Regions from separate parts of the Homo sapiens genome. Here region 2 is linked to region 1. The links come from fine-mapping of genetic effects on plasma protein levels. Region 1 holds a variant in brackets. A gene starts in the other region. All regions are shown on their reverse strands. Region 1 overlaps TLR1 (toll like receptor 1). Region 2 holds the start of IL27 (interleukin 27).

The links. PIP is the posterior inclusion probability: the model's chance that the variant is causal. The UK Biobank Pharma Proteomics Project read protein levels with antibody pairs (Olink). The fine-mapping took linkage between variants from a reference panel, not from the people measured, so its PIPs are less certain.
Region 2: IL27 starts here. The variant in region 1 is fine-mapped to the plasma level of the IL27 protein (UK Biobank, PIP above 0.99).

The regions. Positions count from the first base shown.
Region 1 is chr4:38,794,265-38,799,789 of GRCh38, reverse strand. TLR1 (toll like receptor 1) reads left to right here. Exons shown (of 4, transcript NM_003263.4): 4 at 892-3,535. The coding sequence starts at 959. The coding sequence ends at 3,319. Among named protein-coding and RNA genes, the nearest start is that of TLR1, 7.8 kb to the left of the region's middle. The variant G/T (reference allele first, on the strand shown) is at 2,763.
Region 2 is chr16:28,502,225-28,507,224 of GRCh38, reverse strand. IL27 (interleukin 27) reads left to right here and starts at 391. Exons shown (of 5, transcript NM_145659.3): 1 at 391-444; 2 at 3,175-3,347; 3 at 3,432-3,530. The coding sequence starts at 414.

The DNA of each region.
Region 1 (5,525 bases):
GATCTAATTACCTTTTGAGTAAGACCAAAGTTAGACCCAAACCGTGTATAGGTCATAAAGGGTAATAGAAGAGCAGTCCCAATACCACCATTAGGAACACCTCTTGAGAAAGTCATGGGGAGATGTACGTCAAAGAGTGAAAGTACACCAGTTGAGTCTTAGCTGGAGTTCTAAATAATTTTGGGAAGCTTGGGGCCAGAAAACTTTCTATGAACCCACCTGTATTAGTTTCCTGAGGCTGCTGTAACAGATGATCATAAACGTGGTGGCTTTGCCCTCAACGTTCTGGAGAGCAGAAGTCGAAACTCAAGGTGTCAGCAGGGCCACCATCACTCCAGAGCCTCCTCTAGCTTCTGGCGCCTGTTGATGTTCCTTGCCTTGTAGCTGCTGCACTCCAGTCTCTGCCTCCACTGTCACAAGGCCTTCTCCTCTGTGTCTCAATTGCCTCTTCTCTTGTCTCTTTGTCAAATATCCCTCTGCCTTTCTCTTAAAAAAGCACTTGTCATTGGATTTATGGACCACCTGGATAATTTGGGATGATCTCCTCATCTCAAGATCCTTAACTTTATTATCTCTGCAAAGACCCCTTTTCTAAGGAAGGTAACATTCATGGTTTCTGGGGATTAGGACATGGTTAAGATGTAGACATATCTTTTGGTGAGCCACCATTCAACCTATTACACCATCCATATTAAAACTTATTTGATTAGAGCTGGCATCATTATTTACCAATATATATACTTCTCTAGTTTTAGGCCATGTAACCCAAAAGAATGTAGCCTCCACTTTATAAGTCTGTAACAAAAAAAAGTTTAATGTCAGCCATGACTAATTTCGTGTATTTTAAAAATGTATGTAATGTATTTCATCATTTCATTATTTTTTTTCTAGAATCTGTATCTGTATCAAGATGATCTGAAGAACAGCTTCTACCTTTAGGAATGTCTAGTGTTCCAAAATGACTAGCATCTTCCATTTTGCCATTATCTTCATGTTAATACTTCAGATCAGAATACAATTATCTGAAGAAAGTGAATTTTTAGTTGATAGGTCAAAAAACGGTCTCATCCACGTTCCTAAAGACCTATCCCAGAAAACAACAATCTTAAATATATCGCAAAATTATATATCTGAGCTTTGGACTTCTGACATCTTATCACTGTCAAAACTGAGGATTTTGATAATTTCTCATAATAGAATCCAGTATCTTGATATCAGTGTTTTCAAATTCAACCAGGAATTGGAATACTTGGATTTGTCCCACAACAAGTTGGTGAAGATTTCTTGCCACCCTACTGTGAACCTCAAGCACTTGGACCTGTCATTTAATGCATTTGATGCCCTGCCTATATGCAAAGAGTTTGGCAATATGTCTCAACTAAAATTTCTGGGGTTGAGCACCACACACTTAGAAAAATCTAGTGTGCTGCCAATTGCTCATTTGAATATCAGCAAGGTCTTGCTGGTCTTAGGAGAGACTTATGGGGAAAAAGAAGACCCTGAGGGCCTTCAAGACTTTAACACTGAGAGTCTGCACATTGTGTTCCCCACAAACAAAGAATTCCATTTTATTTTGGATGTGTCAGTCAAGACTGTAGCAAATCTGGAACTATCTAATATCAAATGTGTGCTAGAAGATAACAAATGTTCTTACTTCCTAAGTATTCTGGCGAAACTTCAAACAAATCCAAAGTTATCAAATCTTACCTTAAACAACATTGAAACAACTTGGAATTCTTTCATTAGGATCCTCCAGCTGGTTTGGCATACAACTGTATGGTATTTCTCAATTTCAAACGTGAAGCTACAGGGTCAGCTGGACTTCAGAGATTTTGATTATTCTGGCACTTCCTTGAAGGCCTTGTCTATACACCAAGTTGTCAGCGATGTGTTCGGTTTTCCGCAAAGTTATATCTATGAAATCTTTTCGAATATGAACATCAAAAATTTCACAGTGTCTGGTACACGCATGGTCCACATGCTTTGCCCATCCAAAATTAGCCCGTTCCTGCATTTGGATTTTTCCAATAATCTCTTAACAGACACGGTTTTTGAAAATTGTGGGCACCTTACTGAGTTGGAGACACTTATTTTACAAATGAATCAATTAAAAGAACTTTCAAAAATAGCTGAAATGACTACACAGATGAAGTCTCTGCAACAATTGGATATTAGCCAGAATTCTGTAAGCTATGATGAAAAGAAAGGAGACTGTTCTTGGACTAAAAGTTTATTAAGTTTAAATATGTCTTCAAATATACTTACTGACACTATTTTCAGATGTTTACCTCCCAGGATCAAGGTACTTGATCTTCACAGCAATAAAATAAAGAGCATTCCTAAACAAGTCGTAAAACTGGAAGCTTTGCAAGAACTCAATGTTGCTTTCAATTCTTTAACTGACCTTCCTGGATGTGGCAGCTTTAGCAGCCTTTCTGTATTGATCATTGATCACAATTCAGTTTCCCACCCATCGGCTGATTTCTTCCAGAGCTGCCAGAAGATGAGGTCAATAAAAGCAGGGGACAATCCATTCCAATGTACCTGTGAGCTAGGAGAATTTGTCAAAAATATAGACCAAGTATCAAGTGAAGTGTTAGAGGGCTGGCCTGATTCTTATAAGTGTGACTACCCGGAAAGTTATAGAGGAACCCTACTAAAGGACTTTCACATGTCTGAATTATCCTGCAACATAACTCTGCTGATCGTCACCATCGTTGCCACCATGCTGGTGTTGGCTGTGACTGTGACCTCCCTCTGCA[G/T]CTACTTGGATCTGCCCTGGTATCTCAGGATGGTGTGCCAGTGGACCCAGACCCGGCGCAGGGCCAGGAACATACCCTTAGAAGAACTCCAAAGAAATCTCCAGTTTCATGCATTTATTTCATATAGTGGGCACGATTCTTTCTGGGTGAAGAATGAATTATTGCCAAACCTAGAGAAAGAAGGTATGCAGATTTGCCTTCATGAGAGAAACTTTGTTCCTGGCAAGAGCATTGTGGAAAATATCATCACCTGCATTGAGAAGAGTTACAAGTCCATCTTTGTTTTGTCTCCCAACTTTGTCCAGAGTGAATGGTGCCATTATGAACTCTACTTTGCCCATCACAATCTCTTTCATGAAGGATCTAATAGCTTAATCCTGATCTTGCTGGAACCCATTCCGCAGTACTCCATTCCTAGCAGTTATCACAAGCTCAAAAGTCTCATGGCCAGGAGGACTTATTTGGAATGGCCCAAGGAAAAGAGCAAACGTGGCCTTTTTTGGGCTAACTTAAGGGCAGCCATTAATATTAAGCTGACAGAGCAAGCAAAGAAATAGATTACACATCAAGTGAAAAATATTCCTCCTGTTGATATTGCTGCTTTTGGAAGTTCCAACAATGACTTTATTTTGCATCAGCATAGATGTAAACACAATTGTGAGTGTATGATGTAGGTAAAAATATATACCTTCGGGTCGCAGTTCACCATTTATATGTGGTATTAAAAATTAATGAAATGATATAACTTTGATTTAAACAGTTCTGACACATAAGGGATCCACTTGTTTCTTTGCTATAACTGAGTTCTGAATTTATCATGAAGTCAAGGGAAGCACCTGTTTTTCTTCAGTGATGTGTGTTCTAGTGTATCATGGCCAATATTGGAAAATGCCGTGACTTTTGTGAATATAGCTGGGTTTGTATAGCAGATTTCTACAGCTTTTGATGCTTTCCTCATATCCATGGTGCATTCAACTCAACTTATTGATGGCTGCTCGTTGATAAAGCTGGAGACACTATGCCTGAAGGTTCCTCCCCAACCCCCCACCATCATGCCCACACAAAGGGCAGTTCAGAAGTGCTGGAAATTGTCCTTGGAAACAGCCCTCAACCAATGTCAGAAAGAGCTGGTGGATAAATATCCCAACTTTCTCACTCATTTTTTGAGATAAATCAAAAAATGGGGTATACTTTACACTCTCCCTGAGTTCCCCAGTAGGATAAAATTCTGGTTGTCCACAGTAGAAATGGCTTGATTAAGTATTCTCGACTGGCTTCCTTCCCATTTTTTTCTCACTTACTTATTCCTCCATGTGTATTCCATGGGATCACCTCTGTGATAAACTACTTGCCACTGAATATTTGTCTCAGGGGCTGCTTATGAGGGAGCCCAGACCAAGAAAGTGTTCCACCTCAGTCCAAATGAAAATTCTGAGTCTAGTTTTCCATGACTGGAGATCTCGCTGAGATTCTGGTTGTATGAACTAACATGCACAAGAGCCTTTGCTCTTTTGATTAGAAGGAAGAATATAGTTGATATACGGTGCTTCTATATATAGCATCTGTCTCTTTGGGGAACTATTAAAGTAGAGCATGAGCAGATGGGGCAGTGTAAGGAATGGATATATCTGATGCTTTTCATACCCATCAAACATCCTGTCAGTCTACATTTTTACTCCAGCAGCCAGCTCTGGGCAGGTGTAGTCTTGACAAAAACCTTGTCATAACTACACCATGTATCTTTCACTTTATGCCCCATGACTTCACTGATACCACTGCGTGGGATGCTTGTAGAAGCCTGTTCTACCATTCTGATACATGCACAAACCTGGAAGCACAAGGGATAACACTACGGGATGGGAAGCATTATATACATGCTCCTTTCTTCTATTCTTGGGTTAAAAAATGAGGTGTAATTGATACCTTTTCTCAGACAATCCCTAGTGGCACTGAGGTTTACTTACCCACAGGGTAACCAGCTCAGTAACTTGGTTTTGCATTGACTTTCCATTCTTCCTTGGTCACTCTTCTCATTCGGGTCACTCTTGAGTCCTGAGATCGCTGCTCCAAACAAGCGACCTTTCCTTAACTCAAGGAGTCTAGAAAAAATAAATAAAATAAAAAGCAACAAAAACCAAAAAGCCTACAAATGACCAGCCCACAAAGCTCTCATCTCAGTCTCTACTTTTTTGAGTGGGAAGGAACCCAACTAACACATACATATCTATTAGCTTCTTGGCCTAAAGAACTTACAGTCAATCAGAGAACACTAAACATATCCAAATAACTAAAATAAAAATCAATGAAACAAAGCTATAAAATGGAAGTTCAGAGGTTGCTTAAATTGAGTGAAAAAAAATCTTAGAAATGATGTGTCTTTTTTTTTTTTTTTCCATTAGGTCTTGAAGGAAGACTTTAACTTTGGATTTTTCAATGTGTAATGATGAAGAATGGAAAGGCCATTCTAAACAGAAAGATAAAGAGAGCAAAGGCAGGTATACCCAGGCCTATTCTTGGACTGGTATCCCAGTTTGACTGGACCGTGAGGTTCATGAAAAACAACAGTAGGATAGGAGTGTGGAAAGTTATATTAAGACTATATTGTCAAGGATCTTGAAAGTCAAACCACGGAGTTAGAGCTTGAAAATAGAGGAAAGTCATTATTTAAACTTCTTTGAAGCATAATAGTGGGAGGCAAATTCAAACCATGAAATGTATGCTAAAAATAGGAGAACTATTGTTCTGTAATGGAATTGCAAAAAT
Region 2 (5,000 bases), not on the chromosome of region 1:
GCAATCCCCTTACCTGGCTATCCATCTTTGGAAGGACAGTAGACCCTAGGATGATGGTGGCAGAGCCGAGAATCAGGAGGGGGTTTGGGACTCTGGGATCAACCAGTGAATAGGGCTGGATGGCTCACCCAAGCATGGGACATTGAGGACAGGGCTGGACGTGGGAGCTTAGCAGTGAGTCTGGAGCTTGGATGTCCCGAAACCCCAGCTTCCCGTCACCCCCCATCATACCTCCCACCCCCTCCGGGAAGGGAAATTACATTTCCCCATTTTAGCAAGGGGTGGCGAGAGGGAAGAATGAGTGAACACAAAGCTGAAAGTACAAGCAGGACGGAAAGTGAAACCGGGCACAGCCCCCAGTATAAGACCCCCCCTACCCAGGAGATGGCTGACCAAAGAGGCTGGGCCCCGCCATGGGCCAGACGGCAGGCGACCTTGGCTGGCGTGAGTTTGAAGCCAGGGGTGGGGGGCTTGGTTGAGTTTGGGCAGAGAATGGACGAGCTTGGCTGGTGCAGATGGGGGGTCGAGAGCTGAGAGCAGCAACTTGGCCAAGACTGAGGATTCGGCTGGCTGCTGCATGGGAAGGGAGGCTGGCATGACTGGGTGGGGGCCTGGGGCAGTGGGGTGGTGGTCTGACCCAGGGCTGGGCAGAGGATGAGAAGGAGGCCTTGGCTAGTGGGAATGGGGAGGGTTGGACCAGCAATTTGACAAGGACCAGGTCTAGGCAGATAAATGAAGAGTTTGGAGTGAATAAGCAGAAGCCAAACAGCTTGGCTAAGACTGAGAATGGGGCCGGCTGGAGGAAGAGCAGAACGAGGTGCTGGCACAAGTGGAGCACTGGGACCAAGATGTCAGCAGCCTCACTGGGTCAAAGGTCTTTAGTTTGATGTTGGAAAGAGGTCCAATCTGCGGCTGGTGGCTGCAGAACTCAGGGGCTAGAACCAGAGCAGTAGGCAGTGGAGAAGGTAACATGCCACGTAGGGCAGGTAGGGACCAAAGGCTGGAGGATGGAGACAGAGCCTTCAAAGGCCAGAGCCAATGACCCAGGATCAGCTGCAGAGGGTAAGGAGGGGGTCTGGGGTCTCCAGAGGTCAGGTTGGAGATGGCACAGCTCACTTACGGTTGGGCTTGATCCACCAGGGCCTGGGGGCACCCACCCTGTCCCCAACATTGAGCTAGGAAGAACCCCACTCTGCCTTAAGTCTCCAGGATGTCAGAGGGTCCGAGTGGCCCCAAAACCAGGGAGTCTGAATGCCAGAGATCTTACGTTAGGCATCGCCCACCACATCTGCAAGCCCACGAGGGAGGTAGATGTCCCTAGAAGCTCCCCTTCACCTTTATCAGGGGACATTTCGAAGAGCAGAGCCCAGGGGTTAGAGATTGAGAGAGGACAGGGAAGAGGCAGGGAGAGAAGGGAGAGCAGGATGGACTTCGGGCCAGTTTTGGTTTGTGTTTCGAGGAGAATTGTGTAACTCTTGTGCTTGCTAGATTTCCTCTCCCTGAGGGGGAAATTGATGAATGCTGCCCTCTTCCTAGAGCGCCCATCCGCTGCCCCTCTTTCCAGGAAAACACAGGTCAGGAAGCACACTCGGAATTCAGCCATTCTGGGCTGGGCGCAGTGGCTGATGTCTGTAATCCCAGCACTTTGGGAGGCCAAGGCAGGCGGATCACCTGAGGTCAGGAGTTGGAGACCAGCCTGGCCAACACGGCAAAACCCCTCTCTACTAAATATAATAAAAATTAGCCAGGCGTGGTGGCTACTCAGGAGGCTGAGGCAGGAGAATTGCTTTAACCTGGGAGGTGAAGGTTGCAGTGAGTCGAGATCGCGCCACTGCACTGCAGCCTGGGTGACAGAGTGAGAATCTGTCTTAAAAAAAAAAAAGCTCCCATACTGTGGATTCGCCCCAGGCAGGTTACCCTGCTAGGATCCACCTGCCGTGGTGGAAACTGGACAAACCTGTCCTTTTGACTCCCTGGAATAGAGCCTCTGGCATTGCCAGCCCATCCCTGGGGACCTCATGGCCAGTTCAAGCCATCAGAGCCGCTTGGCTGAGCCCAAAGAATCCTTGCCAGAACATGGTGTGCCCACTCCTGGGGCAGATGGCTGCCTCCCTCTGCATTCTCTGGGGAAAACCCATGGGCTCTGCATTTGGAAAAACCTGGAATCCAGTCCTGGCTTCCCACCTTCTGGCTATTTGACCTTGGGCAAGTCAACCTCACTGAGCCTCACCTGCAAATTGGGGAGAACAATAGCACTGAGGCTGCCACACGTGGTTGTGCAGGTTGCTCACTGAAAAAGGCATTTGGCCAAGGGAGTTTATGGGGGTCAAAATCCAGTCTCTGTCCCGGCACAGTGGCTCATGCCTGTGATCCCAGCAATTTGGGAGGCTGAGGCGGGAAGATCTCTTGAGGCCAGGAGTTCAAGACCAGCCTGGGCAACATAGTGAGACCCTGTCTCTACAAAAAAATAGAAACAGTTAGGCACAGTGGTGTGTCCCTGTGATCCCAGCTACTTGGGAGGCTGAGGCGAGAGGATCACTTGAGCCTAGGAGTTCAAGGCTACAGTGAGCTGTGATCACACCACTACACTCCAGGCTGGGTGATAGAACAGAACTCTGTTTCAAAAAAAAAAAAAAAGGATCAGGCTTCTGGTCTTTTTGCAAAAGTGGGCACACCATGCGGAGATGCCATATGGGGGCCGTGCTGGCTGCATCGTGGGGTTTTGTTTTGTTTTGTTTTGTTTTGTTTTTTTGAGACAGAGTCTGGCTCTGTCGCCCAGGCTGGAGCACAGTGGTGTTAGCTCACTGCAGCCTCTGCCTCCCAGGTTCAAGCGATTCTCCTGCCTCAACCTCCTGAGTAGCTGGGATTACAGGCATGCACCACCACGCCCAACTAATTTTTGTATTTTTAGTAGAGACAGGGTTTCGCCATGTTGGCCAGGCTGGTCTTGAACTCCTGGCCTCAGGTGATCCGCCCGCCTCGGTCTCCTAAATTGTTGGGATTACAGGTGTGAGTCACCGCACCCAGCCTCCATTGTGGTTTTGAGGAGGCAGAGGAATGATGCTGGTCAAAGTGCCTGCACCGTGCTCACAGCTAGCACAGGCTCAGAAAAGGCATGTTCCCTTCCTTCTCAAGCTCTCTCCCTGTCTTGCCACCCTCTTCCCATCTCTCCAGGGCTCAGCCTGTTGCTGCTTCCCTTGCTCCTGGTTCAAGCTGGTGTCTGGGGATTCCCAAGGCCCCCAGGGAGGCCCCAGCTGAGCCTGCAGGAGCTGCGGAGGGAGTTCACAGTCAGCCTGCATCTCGCCAGGAAGCTGCTCTCCGAGGTTCGGGGCCAGGCCCACCGCTTTGTAAGTCCCCCTAATGCAGCTGGCGCTGGAGATGGGCAGACCCCCAATCCCTTCTGGCCCCCACTAACAGACCTTGCCCCCCAGGCGGAATCTCACCTGCCAGGAGTGAACCTGTACCTCCTGCCCCTGGGAGAGCAGCTCCCTGATGTTTCCCTGACCTTCCAGGCCTGGCGCCGCCTCTCTGTGAGTGAGGGCTGGTGGAGTGGGGCGGGAAGCTTGTGATAGGCTGGGGCCAGGGTGCAAGATGAGGCTGGAGATTGAGCTGGAGATGCATTGGGGATAGAACCTGGATAAGGCTGAATATGTCATTGGACATAGAGATGAAAGACAGGCATGGTGACTTACACCTATAAACCCAGCACTTTGGGAGGCCCAGGTGGAAGGACTGCTTGAGGCCAGGAGTTCAAGACCAGTCTGGGCAACATAGTGAAACTTTGTCTCTACAAAAAAAAATTTAAGAGTTAGCCAGGCATGGTGGTGTACACCTTTGGTCCCAGCTACTCAGGAGGCTGACATGGGAGGATTGCTTGAGCTCAGGAGTTGGAGGCTGCAGTGAGTTATGATCCTGGACTCCAGGATGGAGAACAGAGGGAAACCCTGTCTCAGAAAAATAAATAAACTGCCAGGCGTGGTGGCTCATGCCTGTAATCCCAGCACGTTGGGAGGCTGAGGAGCACGGATCACCTGAGGTCAAGAGTTCAAGACCAGCCTGGCCAACATGGCGAAACCCCATCTCTACTAAAAAATACAAAAATTAGCTGAGCGCAGTGGCTCACGACTGTAATCCCAGCACTGTGGGAGGCTGATGTGGGTGGATCACCTGAGGTCAGGAGTTCGAGACCAGCCTGACCAACATGAAGAAACCCCACCTCTACTAAAAATACCAAATTAGCCGGGTATGGTGCTGTGCGCCTGTAATCCCAGCTACTCGGGAGGCTGAGGCAGGAGAATTACTTGAACCCAGGAGGTGGAGGTTGCAGTGAGATGAGATCGCGCCACTGCACTCCAGCCTGGGCAACAGAGCGAGACTCCATCTCAAAACAAACCAACAATAAAGATGAAGCTGGAATAAGGAAGTGGGGTTGGGAAGAGGTAAGAGTGGAGCTAGGCATGGAACGCGGCAGGCATGGGACTGGAATGAGGCTGGAGACAGATCACAGCAGCATGGAGGGTGGGTGGAGGTGGCACTGGGGGTGAGAATGCGGATAGTTAGAGATGAGAAGGTGATGATGAGGGTGAACGTTAAGCATGGGATGGAGAAGGGATGGGGATTGCTGGTGGGGAAGGGAATGGAATAGGGTTAGGAATGAGGTTGGAGATGGGATGGAAAGATGGAAAGAGTGAGTCTGGGCACATGGAGGAAGGATGGAGTTGGGGTTAGGAATGGGAATGAGGCTGAAGATGGGATGGAAACACATGGGCAGGAGGTATGATGGGATGGTGGAGGAGGGAAGGGAACAGGGCTGTGGATGGAGAGTGCTTCAGGGACTGAGAGGGGGTGGGTTAGAGAAGATCATTGGCATAGGAGTGAAAGGGAGGCTGGAAAAGGAGATGGGACAAATGTCCCAGACAGTGGAGATGGAAGGAATGGGGACACAGCTGGGCTGAGGTGGGGGAAGAGCTACAGGGATGGACTGGAGGCTGGAGCGTGGA